Homo sapiens: one gene and its partners. The protein of the gene in region 3 interacts with the protein of the main gene of each other region in a pairwise test. Each region holds a gene or a part of one and is shown on either strand. Other genes may lie near its edges. The genes, in order: ZBTB8A, MAPK9, ZNF138 and LHX6.

Evidence for each region.
Region 1: the proteins of ZNF138 (region 3) and ZBTB8A interact in binary tests that used the Homo sapiens proteins (3 or more experiments, as listed by UniProt).
Region 2: the proteins of ZNF138 (region 3) and MAPK9 interact in binary tests that used the Homo sapiens proteins (3 or more experiments, as listed by UniProt).
Region 4: the proteins of ZNF138 (region 3) and LHX6 interact in binary tests that used the Homo sapiens proteins (3 or more experiments, as listed by UniProt).

The regions. Positions count from the first base shown.
Region 1 is NC_000001.11:32,535,200-32,542,435, forward strand, and holds the start of ZBTB8A (zinc finger and BTB domain-containing protein 8A), read left to right. Parts: upstream 1-4,227; 5' UTR 4,228-4,373; intron 4,374-6,376; exon of another isoform or gene 6,377-6,630; intron 6,631-7,236. UniProt on the Homo sapiens protein: May be involved in transcriptional regulation.
Region 2 is NC_000005.10:180,240,064-180,247,089, reverse strand, and holds part of MAPK9 (mitogen-activated protein kinase 9), read left to right. Parts: exon of another isoform or gene 1-1,070; intron 1,071-4,334; coding exon 4,335-4,517; intron 4,518-5,934; coding exon 5,935-6,059; intron 6,060-7,026. UniProt on the Homo sapiens protein: Serine/threonine-protein kinase involved in various processes such as cell proliferation, differentiation, migration, transformation and programmed cell death.
Region 3 is NC_000007.14:64,797,403-64,804,428, forward strand, and holds part of ZNF138 (zinc finger protein 138), read left to right. Parts: intron 1-1,788; coding exon of another isoform or gene 1,789-1,996; intron 1,997-7,026. UniProt on the Homo sapiens protein: May be involved in transcriptional regulation as a repressor.
Region 4 is NC_000009.12:122,204,948-122,211,973, forward strand, and holds part of LHX6 (LIM/homeobox protein Lhx6), read right to left. Parts: exon of another isoform or gene 5,914-7,026; intron 4,771-5,913; coding exon 4,667-4,770; intron 1-4,666. UniProt on the Homo sapiens protein: Probable transcription factor required for the expression of a subset of genes involved in interneurons migration and development.

The DNA of each region.
Region 1 (7,236 bases), on a different chromosome or scaffold from region 3:
CCTGTAATAATTCTAAAACATGACCCCAAATTCTGTGACATTCTTTCCATTAGAGATAGCAACTATGTCCCCCTTCTGCTTGAATCTTAGTAGGCTGGGACAACTTCCATAGATAGGCAGAAAAAGTCATGCAGCTCCCTCCTACCTGTCTTGGACACACTCTGTCAGAACCCAGCTGCCATGATGCAGGAAGCCCCAGCCCCACAGAGAGGTCATGGGTAGGTGCTCTAGATGACAAATCTCAGCTGAGCCAACCTTCAAGTGATCCCAGCCCAGGTGCCAAACCTTTAAGCGAAGAAACCTGCAGATGATTCCAGTTCCCAGTAGTTCAAGTTACCCCCAGTCATTTAAGTCTTCCCAGCTAAGGCTCCAGACAACAGGAAAAAAAAAAACAAGCCACCCCTGCTGTGACCTGACCCACAGAATCCAGGAGCATAATAAAATAGCTTCAGTTTTCTACTACTAAGTAAGTTTGGTTTGGTTTATTACACAGTAAAAATAACTGGAACATCCCCTTTATAAACCAGTTTCTGAGAGGAATTGTCTGTTCTCATCATCTCTATTCCTTCATCCTCCACTTATTCCTCTAATCTGGAAATCCACCCCATCTTTTAAGCCTAATCATGTTCTCTAAAGTCAATGATCTCCAACTTGTTAAATGTAATGGACATTTTCTTTTAGATTTGTTCTCTTAGCAATATTTAGCACTACTGCCCAATTCTTCCTTTTTTCCTTATTTTTATAGCTGGGTTCTCGCTCTGTCACCCAGGCTGGAGTAGTAGTGATGCCATCATGGCTCACTGCAGCCTAAAGCTCTTGGACTCAAGCGATCTTCCCACCTCAGCCTCCTAAGTAGCTAAGCCTACAGGCACAAACAACCAAGCCCAGCTAATTTATTTTATTTTTTTTGTAGAGATCGGGTCTCATTATGTTGCCCAGGCTAGTCTGGAACTCCTGGCCTTAAGCCAACCTCCTGCCTCAGCCTCCCAAAGTGCTGGCATTACAGGTATGAGCCGCTGTGTCTGGACTCTTCTTTTAGTTTTTATGCCATCACATTATCCCAGGTCTCTTCCTTCCTCTCCAGTCTTCTCACACTCATTTGCAATTTCAGCTTCCTCTAACCACCCACTAGATGAGGAAGTAGCTCAATGTTTGGTCCTAAGCCTTCTTTGCTTCTCATTTTATATTCTCTCTCTATGCATATCCATGGTTTTAATTCCCATCCCACCTATATGACTTTGATGATGAAATTTCTTTTTTCTTTTCTTTTTTTTTTTTTTTTCAGACGGAGTCTCACTCTGTTGCCCAGGCCGGAGTACAGTGGCATGATCTCAGCTCTCTGCAACCTCCACCTCCTGGGTTCAAGTAGGAATTTTTTTTTAATTTAAAAATTTTAAAAATCCTGCCCTTCTAGTCCTCTCTCTCTCAGTGAACAGAACCACCATCTGTCCAGTTCCAAAAGGCTGGGAGTTGTCTTTGACTCCTCCTTCTCCCTCATTTCTCAGAGTCAAACTATTATCTCTAATATTTAACTCTCCACCTCACTTGATCTCCCCACTTCTATCTACCTCCACTCTAGTTCAAGATTCTACCATCTCTTAGCTGGGCCACTGTGATCCACTCTTCCTTCCCTCTAATTTATCTTCCACAGTCATCTTTTCAAAATGCTTACCTCATCATAGCACACACACCCCATGCAGCTTAAAACACATTAATGGCTCCCAAAGTTCTTAACCTGGCCCGACAAGGCCCTGATGGTCTGACCCCTGCCTCCCTCTCCCATCTTATCTCTTGTCTCTCTCCCTCACGTTGCACTCCAGTCTCATCAGCCTTTCAGGCTATATTCCCATCTACCAAGCACCATTTTGCTCCTTCTATCTGGAATGCTCCTGACCACTCACACGCTTGCCTGTTAATTCCTACTCCAGATTTCCAGTCAAGATAACCTCCTCAAGGAAGTCCTCCTTACACAAACCCTCTCCCTCATGAGACGGGTCCCCACTTCATCAATATTCTCATCACACGACATACCTTTCCTTCAGACTTATCCAATTTTCAAATTATACATTTATTTGATTACCATCTGTCTCCCCCACTAGACTGCAAATCCCATAAAAGCAGGGACTTGGTGAATTTTTTGCTCACCACTGCATTCCAAGAGCCTAGAGCAAAAACTTTACCCTTAGCAGGCACTGTTAAAATTGGAATGGGACCAGGTGCGGTAGCTCATGCCTGTAATCCCAGCACTTTGGGAGGCCAATGAGGCTGGATCACGAAGTCAGGAGTTCAAGACCAGCCTGGCAACCTGGTGAAACCCTGTCCCTACTAAAAATACAAAAATTAGCCAGGCGTGGTGGCGGGCACCTGTAATCCCAGCTACTCTGGAGGCTGAGGCAGAGAATTGCTTGAACCTGGGAGGCGGAGGTTGCAGTGAGCCGAGATTGCATCATTGCACTCCAGCCTGGGTGACAGAGCAAGACTCCGTCTCCAAAAAAAAAAAAAAAAAAAAAAAAAAAAAGGAATGGATTATCTTCCTCAAGATTTGAACTGAATAGGTGGAAACAGGGATGGGGGTTGGGTGGGGTGGGAGACAGAGTTTAAGAGACTAGCACTGGTTAATGGTGGAGCTCTAGCATACAGAAACGTGCTCCCAAAGCTAGGAGAATGAAGGTGAGGGACAAAACTCTCATTACCTCTTCCTTGCAACAAAGAGGTTATTTTTGTTTGTTGTTTTTGTTTTTGTTTTTGAAATGGAGTCTTGCTCCGTCACCCAGGCTGGAGTGCAGTGGCACGATCTTGGCTCACTGCAAACTCCACCTCCTGTGTTCAAGCCATTCTCCTGGTTCAGCTGCCCCAGTAGCTGGGATTACAGGCGCGCACCACCATGCCCAGCTAATTTTTGTATTTTAAGTAGAGATGGGGTTTCACCATGTTGGCCAGGCTGGTCTCAACCTCCTGACCTCGTGATCCGCCCACCTCGGCCTCCCAAAGTGCTGAGATTATAGGTGTGAGCCACCACACCCGGCCTCAACAAAGAGTTTATCACCAACCTGATGTGCTCTCTTGAGGAATATGTTTGTGGAACTCTTTTGCATGTTTTAATTAACTAAGGCTAAAATAAAACCTTTGGCTAAAACCATGTCCAGGTCTTTCTGGGGGAATTCTCAATGGGGGCGCTAGCAGAGTAATCTGAGTACATCCAACACACCAGACACCTAATGGTTTTCAAATATGTTTCTACTTACCTGTTCAGAAGGTGAGGAAATGCAACTAAATAGCAAAGCACCTCTGCAGTGACACAGAAGTGACATTGAGACAATTGTGAATATCTTGTATCCTCAAAATGCATAGCTAATTATTCCTGAAATCAAAGTTACAAACTGTCCAATATGAATGATTTTGAACAGGAGAGGAATCCATTAAAAGCTAAACGCAAGTTTTGATAATTTGAACCTTTTCCCTCCAGTTTTACTATAACACAGTACTTTTCAGTACCTGACCCCAGCATAAGGAACTAGAAAACTAATTTATAGAAGTAATGCTTCTACAGTAACAGTGAAAATCCATTGATTTACTATTTTAGCAAATGTATAACCTGATATCTGTACTCTAAATATTAGAGACGTAAATTTGTCAGAGGAAGCTTGGTGTACGATGAATGCTTGCATTGGAAAAGACGCAACTTGCTATTTTTACTAATTTTATATTTCTCTGGACTTAACTAAGAATTATGTTCTCTTATCTCAGCCTCTCTGGGTTTTCCTATTCAAATGAAATGCTTCTGACCTGTACAGGTTTAGAAAAGGTTATCCTCAACTAAAATAACTGCTTCAGTACAAGGGAAAATTCTGTGGAAATCTTTTGCATTTGACGTTGCTAAACTTAAGTACAATAATGTCACATGTACTTATACAGTAATTGTGGGCACGCCTAAGTCCCTCCCTCTTTCCTAAACCAAATCCCCAGATCCTAGAAATCCAGCCCTTCTGCCCTCCGGAGGCGCCTTTCCCAACGTAAAGTACAATTTTAAATTTCAGCTCCTGACTAAAATCATGATCCGCAGTCAACTGCTAGAGAATCTGGGCACCCCGGTGTCTCTGGAGCGTGCAGCGAGTGTGGGCAAGGGCAGGGGGAGTGGGCGAAGCTGCTGGTTGGTGCCTGAAATCTGTGCGTTGCCCCTTTAATTGTGTCCCCAGCCCTCGGGCGTTTCTGTCCAACGCCCACGTCAGCAAATACCTTTTGTTTCTCTCACGTTGGGGCTACTTGTTTTAGGGCGCAAAGGAACGGCCTCGAAAGGGGGTCCTTCCCCAGCCGAGAACCAGGAATCTTCCCTCGGCCCGCGCGCGCGACCGGCCGGTGCGCCGCGGCCCGCGGTAAGTGGCTGCACGCGGCGCCGGCGGAGGGCGGGCGGGCGTCGGGGCTGCCCGGGACCCGCCGCGAGCCTGGCCGCGGGCTCTGACGGCCCGGGCGGCGGCAGTGCTGGGATGCGGGCCCCGGGCGCGCCTCCCCCAGACGTCCCCGGGCCGGGAGCGCGGCGGGAGGCGCCCGGGAGGGGCTGCGGGACAATGGCCGCGCCGTCGCCGCCCGCGCCCGCCTCGCCGCCCGGCCCGGCCCGGGGAAAGGCGGGAAGGCGCGCGGAGCCTCCTGGAGGCGGCGGCGGGAAGGCGGCGGGGACGGCGCCGGGCGTGTCTGGAGCCGTCGGGCGCCGCGGACTCTGGAGGGGCTCGGGCTGCGCGGAGCAAAGACGGGCGGCCGCCGCGGGGGCGCGCGGGGAGGGCAGGGCAGGGCCGGGGCCGGAGTCTCTGCGGGCGCGGCCAGGGGCGCTGCCGGGGAACCTGGCTCCCAGGGCAGTAGCCCGAGTTTCTCGGTGCAGCCTCCATCCTTGGTTTTATGTCAAGATGCGACATCTGGGCTTAGAACCGAGGGCGAACTCACCGCGCCTAACCAATGTTGAGCTCCCAACTATTTGCTTCTGGACGGAACCTTACATGCTCATCTCTACCCATGCGGACCGCCTCTTTTGTGAGTTAGTCAGCGGCTTGTTCCCTTCCCCTTCAGATGCGCTTATGTATCCCCGATTGTTCCAATGGCCCTACTCCACATCATTCTAAGACGCGTTTGGAAGCGGTAGATTCACACACACCTGGTGGGCTTCTAACCACACACGTCAATATCACCTCTATGCTTGATAAACCTTTATAGTTGCACAACTTTAAATGGAGTGCTTTCACCTATATGAATTATTTCACTTAATTTCACATAAAACAACCACCTAGTCAGGCTGACGGTAATTCCACTTTGCAGATGAGGGAACACGTATGAAGCATGGCGTTTCACCTCTAGGCTAGGGTGACCATAGCCGCCCAGGGCCTCCTGTTCCCGCCCTGCCTTCCCTCCTAAGGCACCTCCAGAGGAGTCTTTAGAAGGGCCAGTCTTAACACAGCGCTTCCCTGCTCTAAAAACCTTAACTGATCTTTTTCAGGAAAGCCTCCAAAATCCTCAACAAGCTTCTGCTCCAGTCTTATCTCCTCCATGCCTCAGGTATGGATGCGTTTGTAGACTGGAGCAAGAGCCCCTCACTGATAAGCAGGGATCAGATGTCTTTATTCCTGGGAACCTCTCTGGCCACACAAGTGGCAACTGGGAAGTGAGAATCTGGCTTAGGGCCCTTGATCAAATGGGTGTCTGGGTGGATTGTGCTCTAAAATGTCAGCAGGAGGCATAATGAGTAGGGACTCCAGGAAGGAGGCCACACCACTAACCCTTATCTCCTAGCCCTGAAATCACCAGCTTCGCTGTTGATAATGATTTGGGGCCATCAAAAACTTTGTAAGATAGAGTAATTTAATTCATCGTATGTCATTTAAATCTAATTTTTAGATAAAACTGTGTAATAGACTTAACTCAGTGACACAATGATATGTTAATCATATTTAAAGATTTGATGTGTTTGATTCCCTTGAATGAAGCTTTTGCCACTTTTCTGCTCAAAATTGGTCAGTGGCTCCCCATCTTACGCAGTTTAAAAGCCAAAAGCTCCATAATAGTCTATGCAGCCTTACAAGCACCTGGTCTCACCATGTCCTACTTCTCTCATGATCTGCTTTCCCTTTCTGACTCCATATCCCATTGCTTCCCCCATGCCTCCTTGCCTGCTCACCTCAGGGCCTTTGCACTTGCCGTTCCCTTTGCCTGAAATGCTCTTCCCCCAGACACCCACATGACTCTCTTACTTCCTTTGGACTTTACCCAAATGCCATCTTCTCAATGAGGCTTTCCTCAACTATAGTTTTGATTCTCTTAAGTGTTTTTATTAATTCTAAATCTTTTCTGTCTCAGGCCATTTGTGCAGCTATAAAAATACTTTGGGACTGGGTAATTATAAAGAACAAATTTATTTCTCACACTTCTGGAGGCTGAGAAGTTTAGGCAGTTTGGTGTCTAGTGAGGGCTGCTCTTTGCTTCCAAGATGGCACCGTGTTGCTGCATCCTCTGGATGGGAGGACTGCTGTGTCCTCACGTGGCAGAAGGAATGGAAGGGCAGAAGAGGCTAAACTCACTCCCTCAGGTGCTTTTATAAGGGCACTAATTCCATCCATGAGGGCAGAGTCTTCGTGGCCCAATCACCTCCTAAAGATGATACCGTTGCAATCGGGATGAAGTTTCAACATGAATTTTGGAGGGGACACAAATGTTCAAACCATAGCTCTTAAATGTTTTTAATACAGACGATCACTGACTTACAATGGCTTGACTTACGATTTTTTGACTTTACAGTGCGTTTAATGGGGTATTAAATGCATTTTAAACTTACAATGTTTTCAACTTAAAATAGGTTTATTGGAATGTAACCCCATCGTCAGTTGAAGAGCATCTGTACTTAATTCTAAATCTTCCAAAGCTGAAGGATCATTTATCCATCAAGGAATACAGTTACCACTCTAGTTAGCTGAAGTTCTTTATGACTCAGGAACGTTTGCTAAGCAGGCTAACAAGATTAGTTTTGCTGACCCTGGTGGGACACATTAAATTTTAGATTAATGACTATATATCTTAAAAGAGTTGATCTTCCCAGCCGAGTGTGGTGGCTCACACCTATAATTCCAACACTTTGGGAGGCCAAGGCCTCGGGGGTCGGGGGGGCGGGGTGTGGATCACGAGGTCAGGAGTTCGAGACCAGCCTGGACAAGAAGGTGAAACCCCATCTTCTTTACTAAAAATACAAAAATTAGCACA
Region 2 (7,026 bases), on a different chromosome or scaffold from region 3:
TTCCGTTAATTTAACTAGGAAAGATGCTATCTAAATTTAATAGGCTAGTGTGCTTGTGTGCTTTAATTAAGTACTATTTTGTTAGTTACTGGTATGCATTGAAATATTTTCCCCCAAAGTAAGAACTGAAGCACATTACAAAGGACCTAAGTGAAAGAGATTAAAATGAAAATTTTGTGAGGAACAATATGTTAAACTTTCTTGTTTGTTACTGTGCTGACATTTTGTAGAATTTTTTTTAAAAATCTGTCTAGTGGGTTATTTTGTGACACACTGGGGAAGTCAAAATAAATGTAAAATGAAAGAGATAAACTCATACTGTAGTCAGCAAGTCATGTTAGAGATACAGCAGAAAGGAGAATAACTACTCTAATTGTTACAATAGCCTTCTTTCCTCATTTGCCATTCTTCCATCCTCAGTATTTTTTACCCTAACATGGTTCTTCACATCTTCCCTTTTTCATTTGTGTTTTAACCACTTAGTTTTTCATTAGTCTTTGACTTTGTTTTCGTTATGAAAGTTTAAATTGGTCTCCATCCTTGGGCAGATTGATGGTTGCTTTTAAGGAAATCAAGCTCCATAGTCAGTGTTTTGTATGTATCTTAGGAAAATAATTTCAGATTTTAATAATTTTATCAAAGTGGTCTCCTTATAAATTCTTCACAGTGCAAACTTAAAGTGAAAATATTTTTATTTCTCTCATTTTATTTACCTTTCTTTACATTTTCTATATCATAGATTATATAATATGTCAAGTTATTTTATTTGTTCTACTAAATTTTCTAGCAGTTTCCATAGCCTCATCTCAGATTCACTTGTTGCAACCTATAAATAAGGACGTCTTTATTTTGCAAGTAAACTTAATTAAAAAGGGAAAAGTTGAAAAATTAAAAGACTAATAATTTAGAAATATCTACTTAATGTTCAGTTTGTCTCAATTCTTACTCATTTTGTGCCATTCCTTGTTTTATTACAAAATGTTTTCTTCAAAAAGTACAAAAATGAAAAATGTGAGTACTTTTTGGTGCATTTTAGTAAGTAAAATTAAAATTCCTGCTATACATATGAACATTAATGTCAGTAATTAATAGTGTTATATATAAGGTTACCTAATGTTATTCCCAAAAGCCACACAGAGTTTAACATCATTTTCTAAAGAAAATTTTGCCAACTCTTTCAAATATTAGATTGAAATTTGGGAGATAGAAAAAAGTTGCAGAAATCAGACTGAGGGTCTCAGAGATTTGCTTTAATTTGCGACCCAGGGTAGAAAAGGAACTCCTGTCCCTGCGGTGGTCTATGAGAAAGAGAAAGCTTTAGCCCGGCCACCTCGGGCCCCAGCTCAGACTCCTCCCCTTGGCAGCCATGCATCCTTGAGAAATTTAGGGCCTCTCTGAGCCTTGGTTTCCCCTTCTGTAAAATAGACCTGTGGTCTGCCTGCAGCTTCACGAGAGTTAGACAACAGGGTCCACTGGGCTTGTCGGAATTATTGTTCCCCTTCCCCCGTCCCTCTCATCTGTCCCCCATCCCTCCCACCTGTAGGATGCTGGGGTGGAGTCCTCTCGGGGAATCTGTGGGTCTCCTCTCACAACTGGTTTAATTTCTAGTCCTTTATCATTAACCCAGCAGATATTTCTCTCACCTGCCCATTTCTGGGTGCCTAGTCTGACTGAGATGCAAAGAGGCTCCTCCCAGCTGCTGAATTGAGGGTGGATCGTCAAGGGCAGGGCAGAGCAGGAGAACAGAGCAGAGGCTGCCATCATCCAGAGGAGAGGTGGAGGCCCCCAGCAGGCGGGTAGGGGTGTGGCCGGGGAGATGGGCTTGTACTCTGCTTTGAAGCTGGACCCTTCAAGGAGCCTTGCTAGGGTTTGGAGATGTCTGTTAGACAGTGGAATTTAGGGGCAAGGTCTGGGATAGAGAGATCAAAGTGGGTGTCATCCGTCTGTCGGTAGCCTTGAAGCCTAGGACTGGTAGCGAGCACTTGCAGGGGAGGAAGAGACCAGGACCCGGGACTTAGCCCCCTTGAGGTGGAGGGACAAAGGGAATAGGGAAGGAAATGGAGAAGGCACTCACGTGACCCCTCCTCCTAGAGTGTGGTGACTGAGGGAGGCTCATTCACATGAGGAGATGAGGACGGGGGATTGGCCCCTGGGCCTTGTGATGGCTGCTGGCAGCCATGATGGGCACAGCATTTATGGAGTGGAGGGAAGAAAGCCTGATGGGAGTATGTTTGAGAGAAAATGAGAGGCTGGGAATTAGAGACACAAGTGTAGACAGCTCTTTTTTCTTTCCTTTTTTTTTTTTTTTTTTCCTTTGAGACAGAGTCTCACTCCATTGCCCAGGCTGGAGGGCAGCGATGCGATCTCAGCTCACTGCAACCTCTACCTCCTGGGTTCAAGCGATTCTTCTGCCTCAGCCTCCCGAGTAGCTGGGATTACAGGCGCCCGCCACCACGCCTGGCTAATTTTTGTATTTTTAGTAGGGCCAGGGTTTCACCGTCTTGGCCAGGCTGGTCTTGAACACCTGACCTTGTGATCCACCTGCCTCGGCCTCCCAAAGTGCCGGGATTACAGGTGTGAGCCACTGAGCCCGACCGACAGCTCTTTATGGAAGTTTTTGCTGCAAATAGGAATAAGAAATAAAGCGATAGGTAGGGCCAAAGGAAAGCAGCTACTGTGTTAACATAGGAGAAAACACCATCATTTACCAACGTGGTGGAATGTATTGGTAGAGTGCAAAATGTCGATGATGTTGGAGAAGGAAGAGTTGAGGGAGCTTGTCCTTGAGTCAGGGGGGTTAGGGTCTAGAGCTGAGCAGGCTTAGTGTAGCCGGGAGCCCAGATGGTTGCTGTGTGGCAAATGGCACACAGATGCTGGGTGGGTGCATCCTGGGAAGTCTGTGGGAGTGAGCAGGCAGAAGAGGTATCAAAAGTATAAGGTGGGCTGGGCGCAGTGGCTCACACCTATAATCCCAGCACTTTGGGAGGCCGAGGCAGGCAGATCACTTGAGGCCAGGAATTCCAGACCAGCCTGGCCAACATGGCGAAACCCCATCTCTACTAAAAATAACAAAAATTAGCCGACCGTTATGGCAGGTGCCTGTAGTCCCAGCTACTTGGGAGGCTGAGGCACGAGAATTACTTGAGCCCGGGAGGTGGAGGTTGCAGTCAGCCGAGATCATGCCACTGCACTCCAGCCTGGGCGACAGAGCGAGACTCTGTCTTTATTTATATATGTATATATGGCAGAAGGAAAAGGTGTGAGACAGTTTTCACATTTTGGCTAAATAGGTAAATAAAATGTGGGCATAATTCTGATTTGACAATATGTATGAACCAGGAGTAGGAAGGAGAATTTGCTAGTGAATTGAATGCCAGAAACACATTTCCTGAGCGGGTCTTTTGGAAGTATAACATTTTGGAAGAACTGAGTTCATGTACCAGTTCCCTAGGTTATTTCATGGTGATGTAAGTTCATTTTTCTAAGACATGCCTCAGTGAGCACTTTTTTAAGCTGCTGTTGATGCTATTTTTTTCTCACTTGCATTCTCTTGTATAGCGAGTACAGTTTCAGTGTCACTTTCCCACATGTAATCCTAATTATCCCAAGCCTAACAAGCACCCTGTGGAATAGGCAAAGCTGGTAATGTCTGCATTGAACAAATAAGGAAACAGACCCCAAGGAAGCCTGACTTTCCTGACACACTGAGTGTTTAATGCAGAGTTGAGTCTGAAACCCAGGTCACGCACTTTGAAAGGAAATAAAATGCATTACCTAGGGATCGCAGTGATGGTTGGGAAGAGTCAGTTCCAAGTAAAATAGAGCATCATTTGAAAGCTGTCGCTGGGCTCAGTCTAAGCCCAGTTGCTTGGTTCCCAGCTGTAAACTGAGGAGGTCAGATAGGTCTCTCCACAGGTCCCTTGAGATCCTCTGTTCTTTAGAGAGCTGTGAATGAATCTAAGGTAGCATTAGTATGAAAACTGATTTCAATTTGCTTATGTAATGTTTATCTAATTTCGTGTTTAATCATTTTTGCTATAGGTATTCTTAGTTATAAGATAAACTTTATTTTGAACTAGAGTGGGAAGGTGTGTAGACTTCATTGTGTTGATTTAATAAACTGTGATCATAGTTTATGAAGATGCAGAGTGTGAGAGTTTTAAAAAATAGTGTAACTTGGAAACCCAAACCTTATTTGAATATTATTTCAAAATTCCGCTGCTGATCCAGTGGGGTGGCCTAGTCGATAGGTTTAAATATTATTCAAGTGATGCTGCCGCATGTACTGTGAATACAAGGTACTTCAGTTGTATTTTCCTCAAGAAACTCCTTAGATATTGATCAGTGGAATAAAGTTATTGAGCAGCTGGGAACACCATCAGCAGAGTTCATGAAGAAACTTCAGCCAACTGTGAGGAATTATGTCGAAAACAGACCAAAGTATCCTGGAATCAAATTTGAAGAACTCTTTCCAGATTGGATATTCCCATCAGAATCTGAGCGAGACAAAATAAAAAGTAAGATATCCTTTTTTTCTTATACTTGTGTTTTGTAATTCAGGTGGTGCTTTCACTCTTTCATGTTTGTATTCTAAAAACCTGTGTTTTGGGAGAGAAAGTCATTTTAGGCCTGAAGTCTGAGGTACGAAGGCACTGAGGAGAGAAAGCTTAAAGGTCTAGAAGCTTTATCCTCTATAAGACGGCTTAATTGAAGCCTTTGGCCAAAATAAAAATAATCAAATCAGTCTGAAAGAATCTTATGTTACAGTTACAGCAACTGGAATTCAAAAAGTTTTCAGGTAAGAAGAACACTTAATGCAGATTCTAGAGTCAGAAGCGATGTGACAGTTGTTCGATGAAAAAGGTCCTTCCTCCCCACCTTCTCCTGCACCCTTTACTACAGTGTGATTGTTTAAGGAAAAAGAAAAGATTTGATTCTGTCCGCATGAAGGTAAACTGTGCCTTAATCAGAAAAGCCCCAGTCTTTGCTTATTCAGGTTGTGAACTTTAATTGACAAAACCTAGGTGAGCCTTATATTTAACTAAGTTATTGAACTTGTTTTTCTTTTTCCTAAATACCAATCTGTAGATTAAAAAAAAAAGTGTAAGTTGCCAGCACTGTATACAGCTAGGCCAGCCAGAAGCATCTGTGAGTGTTTTATCCTGTGGGAATGTGAGATTGTTGTGTGGTTTGAAAAGTCTGTTCTAATTTCATTTCGATGTGACTTAGAGAAAAATACTCCCCCGTGCCTCATGCCCACACTCTGGGCAGTGCCACCCGCAGCTCGGCAATTGCCACCTTCCTTGCTGTGGTTTCCCAGCCTTGGGCCCTGCCCAGACATTGGTCTGAGGCTGCCTGGTGCTCTTCCCCACCACCCTGGGAGCCCAGGTTTCTCTTCCCCTTGCAGATCCAGAGGCGTAAAACTACATTTGGAAACCTGGTTTGTCATGAAAGTGGACATTTGACTTTTTCTTAAAAATGTTTGGGTTATGGCTGGGTGCGGCGGCTCACGCCTGTAATCCCAGCACTTTGGGAGGCTGAGGCAGGCGGATCACGAGGTCAAGAGATCGAGACCATCCTGCCTAACACAGTGAAACCCTGTCTCTACTAAAAAAATACAAAAAATTATCCGGGCATGGTGGCAGACGCCTGTAGTCCCAGCTGCTTGGGAGGCTGAGGTAGGAGAATGGCGTGAACCCGGGAGGTGGAACTTGCAGTGAGCCAAGATTGCGCCACTGCATTGGGCGACAGAGCGAGACTCCGTCTCCGAAAAAAAAAAAAAAAATTTTGGGTTATATTCATCTTGAACCTATCAAACATTTCTCAAAATTAATATATCTTTGTTCTATCTGTGTTGTCATATTTAGTTCTTTATTGTATGATTCTGTTTGTTTCATATTAACAGCATTAATTTAATATTTGTTGTCACCCTAGCAAGTCAAGCCAGAGATCTGTTATCAAAAATGTTAGTGATTGATCCTGACAAGCGGATCTCTGTAGACGAAGCTCTGCGTCACCCATACATCACTGTTTGGTATGACCCCGCCGAAGCAGAAGCCGTGAGTATCTGTTTTGAAAAGATTTATATAGAGAGGCCAGGCTTATATTTCCTTGGATCTTGTCTGTCCGTCCAGAGTGGCTACATATGGGTAGCAAGTTCTCCATTTGGGGGCTCCCAGTTACAGAAAGGCCAAGTGTTGTCTGAGACCTGGGTCGCTTGCTCTTTTGCTGCTGGAGCCCCAGCTCAGAGTACCTCGGGAATGAACTTCCGCTTTGGTGCTACCAGTCTCCATTTTGCAAATGCTGCTGTGAGCTCATAGTTTATTAAGCATCTATTCTGTGCCATTGGCTTTGGTTACATCCTCTTGTTTAGGCCACTTAACCAGAGAGGCTGAGCAACTTGCTGAAAAATCACACGTCTGTTTATCCTTCCCTAAAGGCATTGTAGCTCCTGGTTCCCCCGCTGGAGGAGCTCCACTCTGAGTTTGGTGCTCACGTGCGTGTTTCTGTGTCAGCACTGGTGTGAGTGAGCTTTAGCTGTGAGGGAAATCACTGCGTAGTGGCAGGCTTCCTTCATGCCATGAGTGAAATACATGTTTATGTCATGGCCTGTGGTTTTGCCATCAGTTTAAACATTGTTTTATATAAAAAGAATCCAATTTATAAGCAGACTTTTATAACAGTCCATTTATGAGTTGGACATTGGATTTGGGAGTTCTCCCATGAAGAAAATGTAAAATTTGTTCTAAGAAACAACAGTACCTTCCATAGCTGCCAGCACAGTGCCTTGTCCATAATGGGTCTCTGGGAAACAGCCTGTGATGATGAGTTTCTAATGACATCTGGGCAGATGTCTGCGTTTTGAGGTCAGGTGATTATTAAGAGGAACATAATAACTCTTCTTTGGTTAACTTTTTCATAATTATTTTGATTCTAAAGTTGATATAATATCACATGACAAATCTTTATTAAACCACGTGTTGAATTAAACTAAATCCATATCATAAATAGACTAGAAGTCTTCCA
Region 3 (7,026 bases):
AGTAATTTTGCTGAATTTTTCAGTTTAAAAAACCATTTGAACAACTCCGACATGGAAATTAAAGCTTGCGCCAGTGACTGCAAGCTAAGGCTAATATTGAGCCTACAAAGGGAAGGGAGGTTATTAAAGGCCCAGTTAGTTCTTTCTAGGAAGCCTCCCCTGCGGATGTCGGAGCCTGCTCACCCCAGCCATGGAAGAACCTTTATACTGAGAGAAGCTACAGAGCCCTGGAAAACTGGAGACCCACAGGCAGATGCAGTAAACATTAAGATGGAAGGGGATTGGGAGGGTCATACTCAGGATGAAGTTGTTATTGTTTTGAGGCAGTTTCTAGACTTTGTAAAATAAAACAAAATTAGGTTTATTTTTTAAAAAATTCTAAAATACTGCAACAGAAGGAAGTACCAACTATATAATCTTTAAGGATTGCAAAGTTTAGGCAGATAAAGGCTTTCTTAGGGAGGAGCAAAAAAGATTAGAAGGTGAGAGGGGAATGGCAAATGGAGGGTGTATAAATCAGATTTTATTTTTTATTTTTTAATTAAATTATTTTTTTGAGACAGAGTCTTACTTTGTTGCCCAGGCTGGAGTGCAGTGGCTGGATATCACCTCACTGCAACCTCTGCCTCCTGGGTTCAAGTGACTGTCATGCCACAGCCTCCTGAGAAGCTGGGATTACAGCCGCCCACCACCATGCCGGGCTAATTTTTGTATTTTTACTAGAAATGGGGTTTTGCCATATTGGCCAGGGTGGTCTCAAACTCCTGACCTCAGGTGATCTGCTCTTCTCAGCCTCTCAAAGTGCTGGGATTACAGGCGTGAGCCACCACGCTCAGCCCAAATCAGATTTTAGATTAGAAAATGTTTTACCCTGAAGTCAGCAAGTTTTTAGGAGAAACATAAAATGGGGTTGTATGTTGGCTCAGACTGAGTAGCTCAAAGTTCAGGAGCTGTGGGAAGGAGATAAACTTAACTATATTTTGATTAAGAAGTATTTTATTTGACCGCTGAAGAAAAATTCGGCTATTTTTTTAAATACAAAAAAGAAAATCTTATACATAGTGCTAGCTAGTTATTCCAGTACCATTTTATTAAATAGGGAATTCTGGCCGGGCATGGTGGCTTACGCCTGTAATCCCAGCTCTTTGGGAGGCCAAGGCGGGTGGATCACCTGAGGTCGGGAGTTTGAGACCAGCCTGACCAACATGGAGAAACCCTACAAAAAAAATAGTCGGACATGGTGGCCCATGCCTGTAATCCCAGCTACTCAGGAGGCTGAGACAGGAGAAACGCTTGAACCTGGAGGCGGAGGTTGTGGTGAGCCGAGATTGAGCCATTGCACTCCAGCCTGGGCAACAAGAGTGAAACTCCGACTCAAAAAAAAAAAAAAAAGGAAATTCTTCCTACATTGATCTTGTCAGCTTTTTTGATGATCAGATGGTCAGATGGTTGTAGATGTGTGGCATTATTTCTTGGCTCTATTCTGTTGCATTGTTCTATGAGCCTTTTTTTTTTTTTTTTAATCACTACCATGCTGCTTTGGTTACAGCCTTATAGAATAGTTTCAAGTTGGATAATGTAATGCCCAGCTTTGTTCTTTTTGCTTAGAATTGCCTTGGCTATTCAGGCTCTTTGTTGGTTTCATATGAATTTTAAAATAGTTTTTTTAGTTCTGTTAAGAATGTTTTTGGTAGCTTGATAAGAATGACATTAGATCTGTAAATTTCTTAGGGCAGTATGGCCATTTTAATGATATTGATCTTTTCTTTTCTTTTTTTTTTGAGATAGAGTTTTGCTCTTGTTGCCCAGGCTGGAGTGCAATGGCACGATCTCGGCTCACCGCAACCTCTGCCTCTGGATTCAAGTGATTTCTCCTGCCGCAGCCTCCTGAGTAGCTGGGATTACAGACATGCGCCACCACGCCCAGCTGATTTTATATTTTTAGTAAAGACGGGGTTTCTCCATGTTCAGGCTGGTCTTGAATTCCCAACCTCAGGTGATCTGCCCGCCTCTGCCTCCCAAAGTGCTGGGATTACAGGCTGAGTCATGCCACCCAGCTGATGTTGATCTTTTCTATCCATGAGCATAAAGTAATTTTCAATATATTTGTGTCATATCTGACTTATTTAAGCAGTGTTTTGTAATTCTTGTAGAGATCTTTCACTTGCCTGATCAGCTGTATTCCTGGATGTTTTATTATTTTTGTGGCAATTGTGAATGGGATTGTGTTTTTATTTTTGTTTGTTTATTTGTTTTTTGAGATGGAGTTTCGCTCTTGTTGCCCAGGCTGGAGTGCAATGGTGCAATCTTGGCTCACTGCAACCTCGACCTCCCGGGTTCAAACGATTCTCCTGCCTTAGCCTGCCAAGTAGCTGGGATTACAGGCCTGTGCCACCACGCCTGGCTAATTTTTTGTTTAGGAGAGACGGGGTTTCACCATGTTAGTCAGGCTGGTCTTGAACTCCTGACCTCAGGTGTTAGGCGATCCACCCACCTCGGCCTCCCAAAGTGCTGGGATTTCAGGTGTGAGCCACCAGGCCCAGCCTGGGATTATGTTTTTGATTTGGCTTTTGGCTTGGATGCTGCTGATGTACAGGGATCCTACTAATTTTTGTACATTTATTTTGTATTCTGAAATTTTGCTTCACTTCTTCAGTTTAAAGAACGTTTCTGTGGAGACAGAAAAGAGAAGAACTTTTCTGTGGGTTCTCTAGATATAGAATTATGTTGTCTGTGAACAGGGATAGTTTGACTTTTTCTCTTCTATTGAATACCTTTTATTTTAGTCTCTTGCCTGATTAACTGTGGTGTGGACTACCAATTCTGTGTTGAATAGGAGTGGTGAGAGAAGGCATCCTTGTCTTGTGCCAGTTTTCATGGAGAAATGCTTCCAGTTTGTCCATTCAGTACGTTGGTTGTGGGTTTGTCTTGGATAACTTGTTATTTTGAAATATGTACCTTCAATGCCTAGTTTGTTGAAGGTTTTTAACATGAAAGATGTTAAAATTTTTTTGAAAGCTCCTGCATCTATTAAGATAATCTTGCAGTTTTTATCTTTATTTTTGTTAATGTAACGAATCACATTTATTAATTTGTGTATGTTGAACCAACCTCATATCCCAGAGAAAAAGCCTACTTGATCATAACTGATTAACTTTTTGGTGTGCTGCTGAATTTAATTTGCCAGTATTTTATTGAAGATTTTTGCATATCAATGGTCCTCAAGGATATTTGCATAAAGTTTTCTTTTTATATCTGTGTCAGGTTTTGGTGTCTGAATGATGCTGTTCTTACCTAATGAGTTGAAGGAGGGAGTGTCTTCTCAATTTTTTGGAATAGTTTTAGAAAGAATGGTACCAGCTCTTTTTTTTATACATCTTGTAGAATTTAGCTGTGGATGTCTCTGGTCCTGGGCTTTTTTTGGTTGCTAGGCTATTTATTACTAATTCAGTTCTGTAGTTTGTTATTGTTCTATTCAGAGATTCAATTTCTTTTTTGTTCAGTCCTGGGAGGATGTATTTTTCAGGAATGTACTATTTCTTTTAGATTTTCTAGTTTGTGTGCATGGAAGTGTTCATAGTAGACTTCAATAGTTATTTGTATTTTTCTGGGGTCAGTGGTAATGTCCCTTTTGTCATTTCTAATTGTATTTATTTGAATCTTCATTAATCTTGCTAGTGGGTTATTTAGCTTATTAATTTTTTTAATAGATTTAACTCCTGGATTTCTTGATCTGTTGCATAGTTTTTTATGTCTAAATCTCCTTCAGTACAGCTCTTGTTATTTTTTGCCTTCTGCTAGCTTAGGGGTTTGTTTCCCCTTGCTTCTCTCCTTATTTTATTCATAATGTTAGGTTGTTAAATTGAGATCTTTTTAACTTTTTTATGGGGGCATTTAGTGCTATAAATTTTTCTGTTAGCACTGCATTAGCTGTGTTGCAGAGATTCTGATATGCTGTACTTTGTTCTCATTTGTTTCAAAGAGCTTTTTGATTTTGCCTTAATATTATTATATACCCAAAAGTTATTCAGGTACAGGTTGTTTAATTTCCATGTACTTGTATGGTTTCAAGTGGTTTTCCTTGTATTGAATTATATTTTAATCAATCTGTGGTCTGAGTATGTGGTTGGTATAATTTTGGGATGTTTGAAATTGCTGAGGATTGTTTTATTTTGGATTGCGTGGTCAATTTTAGAGTATGTGCCACATGGTGCTGAGAAGAATATATATTATGTTGTTTTTAGATGGAGAGTTCTGTAGATTTCTAGTAGGGCTATTTGGTTAAGTATTGAGTTTAGTTCTTTTTTAATTTGCTGCCTCAATAATGTGTCTAATAGTGTCTGTGGGGTGTTGTAGTCTCCCACTATTGTATCAGAATCTAAGTCTCTTCATAAATCTCTAAGAACTTGCCTTATTCATGTGCACCTGTGAAAGGAAATTAAATCTTGGGACCCAAAACTCATTAAGCCAAACAGAAAAGTTAAGCTGGGAACGGGGTCACACAAACCTGCCTTCCTCTTTTGGCTCTGTTGACGAAGAGTCAAACTCTGTAAAATATTTTAAGAGATTTATTCTGAGCCAAATATGAGTGACCATGGCCTGTGACACAGCCCTCGGGAGGTCCTGTGATCAGGCCAAGGTGGTCGGGTTACAGCTTGGTTTTATATATTTTAGGGAGACATGAGACATCAATGAAATACATTTAAGAAATACATGGATTTGTCCGAAAGGCAGAACAACTCAAAGTGGCGGCTTCCGGGCTATAGGCAAATTTACACATTTTCCGGTTGACAGTTGGTTGAGTATATCTGAAGACCTCGGATCAATAGAAAGAAAATGTTCAGGTTAAGATAAAGGATTGTGGAGACCAAGTTTTATTGTGGAGAGGAATCTCAGATAGCAGACTTCAGAGACAGCAGGTTGTAAAAATGTTTCTTCTTACTGGACTTAAAAAGGTGCCTGGCTCTTAGTTGATTGATTATCTCCTGGATCTGGAATGTAAGGAAGGAAAACAAAAGAGGAAAGGGGATTGTCTATAGAATGTACATTTTTCCCACAAGAGACTTTTGCAGGGCAATTTCAAGGCATGGCAAGAAAATATATTTTGGTGTTAAATATTTTGATTTTTTTTTTCTTGTCTCATAATGTTACGCCAGAGTCAGATTGGAAAGTAAGTCACGATCTATAGGGTCAAATAAAACCCATCTGATGAGAATTTATGGTTTGTAGGGCATGACCCCTTACAAACAATTAGATAGAAATTTGGGCAAGATAAAAAATTCAGAGCTTAGTCCTCAGTTCCTAAATAAGATGGCTACAAGAAGAAAAGCTACATACCTCCCCCATCTTTTGCCCACAAGAAAATTTCTAGTGAGCCGCAAGATCTTTACCCTAAGGTGTTTCTGTTAAAATGTAAACTGATAGCTTATCTTTACAGATACAGTCACCCCCCTGCCCAACAGACACAAATGCATATCTGATTGTTCCCCTGCCTCGTTTTGTCTTGTCTTATGTTAAAAAAAAAAAATGCAGATTCACTGAGCCAGACAATGGCATGAGTGACTATTTTTCCCTACCCCCCTCTTACATAACAATTGTGTACTTCTCAATATCTCACTGTAGGAGAAAATATAAATTAGAAATAAGAGGGTTTATTCTCCTGCATGAAAATAAGGGAGGATATTTTGTTAATTTATTTTTCTTTAAAGCACTTAAATTATATGTAGATTTTTTTCTTTGTTGTTTGAAAGATATGTAAATCATATTAACAGCTAAATCTTTTGTCATTGTTTTTGACTCAGGATTGTCTTTATCTAGGACCTCAGATTCATTGCTTTGTTTTTGCTTTGGCAAAGGTTTTTTTTTTTTTTTTTTCATTTAATCTGTATCTTTTAAGGTAGACACAGATTTGTTTAGATTAAAGCTCATTTTAAGAGCACACAAAAGTTGAGCACAAAGATAGGATTACATTTAGCAATACAGAATGATGAAGACTAAAAGATACCAAGTAAGCTCCTTTGACAGAAAACAGATTATCCAAGGTAATTATTTAATATTTGCAGGCTGAAGTACTTACATTGCAAAAGCGAGGTTCAGTGTATGAACTGAACAGTGGAGTCTGTGGTTGTGCTTTGGTTTCTGCTTATTACTTCAGAACAATTAGCATAGTTATGTGTAGTGTTTGTAGACAAACTGCATTCATATAAATTAAGCAGTATTTTATACAGTAGTGTGAATATAACACCACAATATTTGCTTTGAATGAATCCCTTAGTAATTTCAATATTTTTATATTCATACATTTGGAATATAAAGTGTTTTAATTGGATTATGGTTACAGACAATTTTTAAAAATCCTATGTACATTATAAATAGTACATTAAAATTATACTAAGTGTATCTAATCAAAAAAGTTACTATCAAATTATTACAGTAGATATTAGTATAACATGGTTACTAATTTATCCAATAGAGATAATTATAGGTAAGCATAACTTCAGTGTCTTTCGTTTCACTAAATTGGAATGCTGCTGTTACAGGAAAAATAAACAAGGGTGATGTGGCCACCCAAAAACCGTAATAGCTCTTCACTTACCCATGATGCAAGCTCAAATATATTCCACTATATTAACAAAGTCATATTCCAATTCTTCATTAAAAAGTTCTGGTGGGGATAAGGGAGGAGACCACCCCTCATACTGTCTCATGCCCAATTTCTGCCTCCAAAGAAAGAAGTAAAAACTAAAAGGCAGAAATGAAATCCACAGGCAGACAGCCCGGCGCCACACCGTGGGCCTGGTAGTTAAAGATTGACCCCTGACCTAATTGGCTATGTTATCTATAGATCACAGACATTGTATAGAAAAGCACTGTGAAAATCCCTGTCCTGTTCTGTTCCGTTCTAATTACCGGTGCATGCAGCCCCCAGTCATGTACCCCCTGCTTGCTCAATTGATCACAGCCTTCTCATGTGGACCCCCTTGGAGTTGTGAGCCCTTAAAAGGGACAGGAATTGCTTACTCGGGG
Region 4 (7,026 bases), on a different chromosome or scaffold from region 3:
GCACCTCTCTGAGCCTGTTTCCTCATCTTTAAAACAAGGATGACAAAATCTCTCTCTGAGAATCAGAGAGATTCAATGAGATACAACAGCAGCAGCAAAAGCCTTCTGGGCATTTCACCCTGCACCTTCTGTGCCTGATTTCACGGAAGCCGCACCATAGCCCCGTGAGGGAGTTCCAACGTTCTGTTTTACAAGGAGGGCACTCAGGCTCAAAGAGGTGGAAGCGAGTGAGCTCGTGGGCACACAGCGAGGAGGAGGACCTGGCACTGGAGGCCAGGCCTGGCTCACAGCAAGCTCTCCCTACCAAAGCACATTGCCTCTACCTTTCCAAGGTCACCGTGACCATAGTGGCTGACTGCTTATTACCCACAGGGCCACGGGCTAAGCACTTCACATGCGCTTAATCTTCACATGCACGAAGCCTAGAAGTGCGTGGCTCAGACACACTGGGTGCCCGATACACAGTGGGAGATCAGGACTGTCTGTCCCTTTCCCCCTCCCACTCCCACCTCTAGCACTTGGTTGACATCTCACTGCTGCTGACACAGCCAGTTCCCTGAAGTTCAGGTCAAGGATCACTGGCTGGCTGGTCAATGGCAATGTGTCATTTCACAGTAAAGTGTGAGGGGCATCTGGTGGGCATGACTACATGGCTGTTCCCTTTTCTGATCAGGAATGTTACTTGCCCAGAACTGGTTATCACAAGGAGGTGATGGAGGAAAGCAATGATGATGATCACCATAATAGTGATCATGATCATAACCAACACCTGGGGGCATTTTCTGTGCACCAGGCTCTGTGCTGGGCTCCTTACACACATTATGCATTTATTCTCTGCAGCAACCCTACGGAGTGGGAACTATTATTATCCCCAGTTTGCAGATGTAGAAACCGCAGCTCAGAGAAACTAATTGCATTCCCAGATCTCACAGGGGAGGTGGCAGAGCTGGGATTCCGAGCTGGCCTAACTCCAGAGTGGCCAGGGTGGGCATTCCTTCCCCACCCTGGCCACTGCTCCACTTTGGCCTCCAGAATGCCTGGCTTTTAGCCCTTATTAGGAAAAGCTCTCTCAAGAGTGGCGACCCTGGTAGGACCCTTCCCCTCCATGGGTCTCAGTCTCCTCCACTGATCAATGACAGCTTAGCCCTGATTTCTAAGAACTTTCCAAGTGTTGGATTTGTGGGATCAGGGGACACAACCAGGAAGAAATGTGGCTCTGGAACCTCACAGGTGTGTGTGGCCAAATGACGATGCGGTGGAGGCAGGGGATGCTCCCCTGAGTGCTCAGAGCACTGTTCTCCTGGCCAGGCCAGTGCTGGTCTAGATGAGTGGGTTCAGGGGCCAGCCCCATGGGGACACTGAGTCTCCTCACAGCTAGGCAGGCTCAGGCCTGGAAGGACTTGGAAGAAAGCCCAGACAATCCTGTGCTGGCCACACACATACCACACCCTGCCGCCCACCAAGCCCCAGGAATTTGAGAGTTATGGACAAGAAAAGTCCCTAGGAGCTGGCGGAAAGGCCTGACAGTGAGAGGACAGAAGGTCATGAAGGAGGGAGAGACACTTTAATGCAGACTTTCTGGGTGCAAAGTTGGGGACACAGCCCAGCAAGGGAAAACTCTGGCTCAGCAGCCAAATCCAGAAGCCAGAAACTGTCTATAGCCAAATCTGACAGCCCCCAGCATGGCTCATCCCCCAGGCTGAATGAGACAGAACCACAAGCTTAGCTGAGCAACCAGGAGGCAAAGGCTCCTCTCCAAGCACTGAGCCCAGCCCTCTGTACCTCCAGGGCCCATCCCTGCCCTCCACATAATGTCCAAGACCCTCTTTCCATGATCCTTTGTTCTGTGGCCCCTGTCGGCTCTCCCCACTTCCCTGGACCTCAGCCACACTGAACGTCCCCCAGGGTCCCCTCCGGCCCAAGCTCCTCCATGCCTCTGGGCCTTTGCACATGCGGTTCTCTTGATGTGGAACACCCTTCTTCTTGTCCCCTGTCTCTCCCCTAGAGCTCACTGCCTCCTCTTCTGGGTCCTCTAAGGTCAAGTTTCTCGCCTACTCCAGCTGCCCATTCCCCTGCAATGTAACTGCCCACACCCTGTGCTAAGCCACAAGCTCCCTGAGGGCAGGGATCATGTCAGCTCACTTCTGCAGTCCCAGAGCCAGGTCTAATAGGATGAATCCCCTCCCACAGGAAGGGACAGCTCTGAGGCAGGTGGCTCTAGGATCCCGGCCAGTTCTGCCCATGCTCACATTGTGATTCTGGATGAGCACTGCTCTGTCTGAGCCTCCGTTTCTGCAAGTGTGAAATGGAGGTCATCGCAATCACCCTCCCAGGGAGACTATGAAGGATGAGGTCGGAGAGAGGGCTGTGTACACAATGAAGTGCTGCACAAAAGGAAGTGATTACTGAGCCGCGCAGACTTCAGAGTCCGACAGACTCGCTGCATCCCTGGACAAGTCATGTCACCTCTCGGAATCTGTTTATCTCTTTACAATGAGAAGGCCATCTCTATGTCCACAAAGTGGCTGGGAGGTGTGAACCAGATGCCATGTGAGAAGTAGCTGCCTTGAACAGAAGGAGCTCAGCAAACGGCAGCTCTTCCTATGGATGTGACAGTCTCAGCGGCGATGGTGTTCCTGGGGCATGCTCACTCACTACAGATTCTGCAGGATTTTACGTTAGGCACTACCATTTATTTACAAATGTATCTGTCCAGGGCTGTCTGTACCTCCACACCATACACATTCTCCTGTGGTGCCCGGCACAGAGAGCTCAGTACATACTAGGTGTACTGAGCTCAATCAGGAGGCTGAGCCAGAGGTACCATCCTAAAGGAGCTGTCCCCACCCCGGCTGCCCGTTAGAATCACACAGGCTGAGTATTACACTCGCAGATCCCTATATCCCACCCCAACAGACTCTCTGAGAGCGAGGCTTAGGAATCTCTGTATATTTACAAGCTGCCCAGGTGATTCCGAGCACACCAAGACCGGGATCTGCTGAACTGGAGGGCTCCTGACTCCAGCCCTAATGCTCTGACCCTCTCCCTCCGAGGGACTGCCACACCCACTGACCTCCAGGGATCCCTGCTTCCTACTGGGTGTCCTCCAACCCAGCAGTCTCTGAAGACTGCTACAGTGATGTTTCTGCAGCAGGCCCTCCAGGACCCCACACTGCCGCAGCATAAAATACAGACTCTTCCACCTGGCAGCCTCAAGGCTCTCGCTTTCCTCCTCTCATCCTCCCAGACATGCCTGCCAACAATGCTGAATGGCTCAGGGTTCCCTGAGAGCTCTGGTGTCTCATGCCTTCCCTGATGCCTCAGCTTTCAGGCCTGGCCTTAGAGGTTGCCTCTTCTGGGAAGTCTTCCCTGCCTCTCTCCTTTGCCCCCTTCCCCCTCCCCAGCTCCCATGGCTTCCCCTGTCACACTGTATTGTAACTGTTGGGATCTGCCTCCCCCTCCAGACTCTGGCCTCCTCAAGGGTAGGGACCACACTTTACTTGTTTCCACTCCTAGCAACAGATTCATGGATGCTGGGCACAGACAAGACATAGGAAATGTCTCCAAATAAACAAGTCAGTGAATTAAAAAATGTAAGGTTCGGCCGGGCACGGTGGCTCACGCCTGTAATCCCAGCACTTTGGGAGGCTGAGGCGGGTGGATCACCTGAGGTCAGCAGTTCAAGACCAGCCTGGCCTACGTGGCGAAACCCCATCTCTACTAAAAATACAAAAAAATTAGCTGGGCATGGTGGTAGGCGCCTGTAATCCCAGCTACTTCGGGAGGCTGAGGCAGGAGAATCACCTGAACCCAGGAGGTGGAGGTTGCAGTGAGCCGAGATTGCGCCATTGCACTCCAGCCTGGGCGATAAGAGTGAAACTCTGTCTAAAAAAAAAAAAAAAAAAAAAAAGCAAGGTTCTCATCCAATCTCTGACTTTGAGCTATCTGGGCCTCAACGTTCCCATTTCTAAAATGAAGGGTTGTCTGACAGCACTGGCTTTCGAGGCTAACTGTGAGGTGTCTTGGAGCTGGGAGGGAGGTAAGTCTCCTCCTCTCTCCATGGTTTCAGAGCAGCTCCATCCACCTTCATCTGCACTATGGACAAGTTTAAACAAAGGGTTGCATTGCTTCAGAAATAATACCTTGAAGCCCTGGAATGGGGACAGCTAAGCACCCTTTTAGAAGTGCAGTCCTAAAGCCTGAGACAACCAGAAATCCTGGCTCCACAGAGGAGGCCCTGCCAGTTGACCAAGGTCACTGGCTGGCCAGCTATCCCTGAACCCCATCAGCTCAGGATATTCACTCCCAACAGACAAGAATGAAAAGGAGAAACCAGTGAGATGATGGGAAGTGGGGTGATGAGTGATATAAGCCCTCCCTGGAACTTAAAGCTTGAGTAAAGGAAATTCACAAATCTAAGACAGAGCAGGGCAAACTGCCAGTGGGGAGCTGCAAGGAGGCCTTCGGAGTGGCCATGCACACAGAACACACTAGCAACCACCGCTCCAGTGACTGCTGTGGGGGTGCGGTGGGGGTCTCAGCAGGCCGGGCAGACAGGGTCTGCCACAGCGCAGCATGGTACCAAATGGTTAACAGAGGATGCTGCCAGAAACCCATCCCCAGCAGGGTGGCTCTGACCCACCAGACCCAACCTGGCTCCATTTACCTTCTCACCCCGGTTGGAGAGCGGCCCATCCATATCGGCTTTGAGGTGGACGGGGGGTGCGGTGTAAGGCAGCCGGCAGTGCACCTGCCCGCACTGTACCTGACCTGTGGACGAGAGGATGCCTTGGAGCTCATCCCCCAGGCTGCACACAGGATCCCACCTGCCCCGTGCTCTCTACAGACTGGAGCCCTGAAACCAGTTTCATCTCTGCCACTTACCTCCTGGGTAGCCCTGGGCAAGGTTTCAGTAGGGTTGGTTGTGATGATCTTTTTTTTTTTTTGAGACGGAGTCTCACCTTGTCGCCCAGGCTGGAGTGCAGTGGCACGATCTTGGCTCACTGCAAGCTCTGCCTCCCAGGTTCAGGCCATTCTCCTGCCTCAGCCTCCCAAGTAGCTGGGACTACAGGTGCCCACCACCACGCCCAGCTAATTTTTTGTATTTTAGCAGAGACGGGGTTTCACCGTGTTAGCCAGGATGGTCTTGATCTGACCTCATGGGGTTTCACCGTGTTAGCCAGGACGGTCTTGATCTCCTGACCTCATGATCTGCCCGCCTCGGCCTCCCAAAGTGCTGGGATTACAGGCATGAGCCACCGTGCCCGGCCAATTGTGATGCTCTTTATAAAGAGCTACGTGAGAGTGAGGTATAACCATCTAGCTCACTGATAAACACTCCTAAATAAATATGTGTTTTCATATTCATGCGCATGCAAGCAAGTCTGTACCCTGCCTATTCAGGCCCTGCAAGCAAGGCTGTGCCCCATCTATTCAGACCCTCCCTCAGTAAGTTCATATCTCTTAGGTATCACCATGACTTTACCCATGCCTCTTAGAGGACTCTGTACTCGTATGTCACCTCTCTCTTTACGACTGCAACCAACACCAACACCTATCTCCTACCCTCCCTGTCTTCCTCCCGGCTTTATTTCCTTAGCACTTATCATCTGACTTAACTGCATTTTTGTTTGAGACAGGGTCTCACTCTGTCACCCAGGCTAGAGGGCAGCGGCATCATCTCTGCTCAGTACAACCTCTGCCTCCTGGGTTCAAGTGATTCTCCCACCTTAGCCTCCTGAGTAGCTGGGACTACTGGCATGTACCATCATGCCCAGCTAATTTTTGTATTTTTTGGTATAGAGGGGGTTTCACCATATTGGCCAGGCTGGTCCTGAACTCCTGACCTCAAGTGATCTGCCCACCTCGGCCTCCCAAAGTGCTGGGATTACAGGTGTGAGCCACCACGCCCAGCCTGACTTACTGCATATTTTTATTATTTATTTGATATTATCTGTCTTTGCCAACTAGAATGCAAAGCTCCACGAGGGCAGGAATTTTTTGTATGTTTTCTAGATTCTAGATCTTTGTGGATTTCCAGCACCTAGAGTGAGGCATGGCATTTAGTAGGTACTCTTAAGTATGTGCTGAATGAATTTCTATACCATATTCCAACATCTAAAACTGTTGGGGAAAGTCCACCTTTGGGTCGGATCCAAATTTCTCATGCTTCAGCCTGTTTATCACTACAGCGGAGAAGTCCATTGCTGGTCTCTTCTTTAGGCTTCATTCTCTTTGGTCACAGGGAAAGGGCATTGTAGAGACACTTACAACTGATATATAAACCGGGACAATTCACTGTGCCCTTCTGAGCCACAGTTCTCCCATTTGTAGAATAAAGGAGTTATATTAAATTGGGAGTTCTTCACCTGGGGTGTTCAAGGAGTCCATATACAACTTCAGATTACTTGGAAAATGTATGTACATCTGCATTTTTCTGGGGTCTGGTTCCAAAGCTTTTATCAGATTCCAAGCTCGAAGCCTCCAGGAAACTCAGTATTCTGTGACTTTAGTTAACCGCAGAGCAAACTCTACAGAAAAACTCATTTTTCTGGGGTCTGGTTCTAACACTTTCATTAGCTTCCCAGCTTAAGGCTTCAGAAAATTCACAACTCCATGACTGTAGTTTACCATAGAGCAAACTGCTGTGGTGACTCTCAGTCAGTCATGCAGCAGGAGGTGCAGGTGCACACACCCCCAACCTCTTCTTCCCCAAGCTGAGTTCCACCACAAGGGTAAGAGGAGAGGGCACCTCAGCCTCTTCTCTAAGCAGCAAAGACAGATCTAAGTTTGGTCAACAGAGTGTATGGACAGAGTCCTGGCAGGGACTCTGGAGGTCATGGCCCCAAGTCCAAAGGGATCATCTAGATTTCTTATTGACTCTACACCAAGTATTAGCAGGTAGCTCAGACCCCTGGTACTTATAGCGCCCCTGATCCTTGGCACCTTTAACAGGCTCTGTGCAGCCTGAATATAGTTATTGTTTAGAAAAGAAAGGGGGAAAATGTCGCTCCTATTGAGCAGATA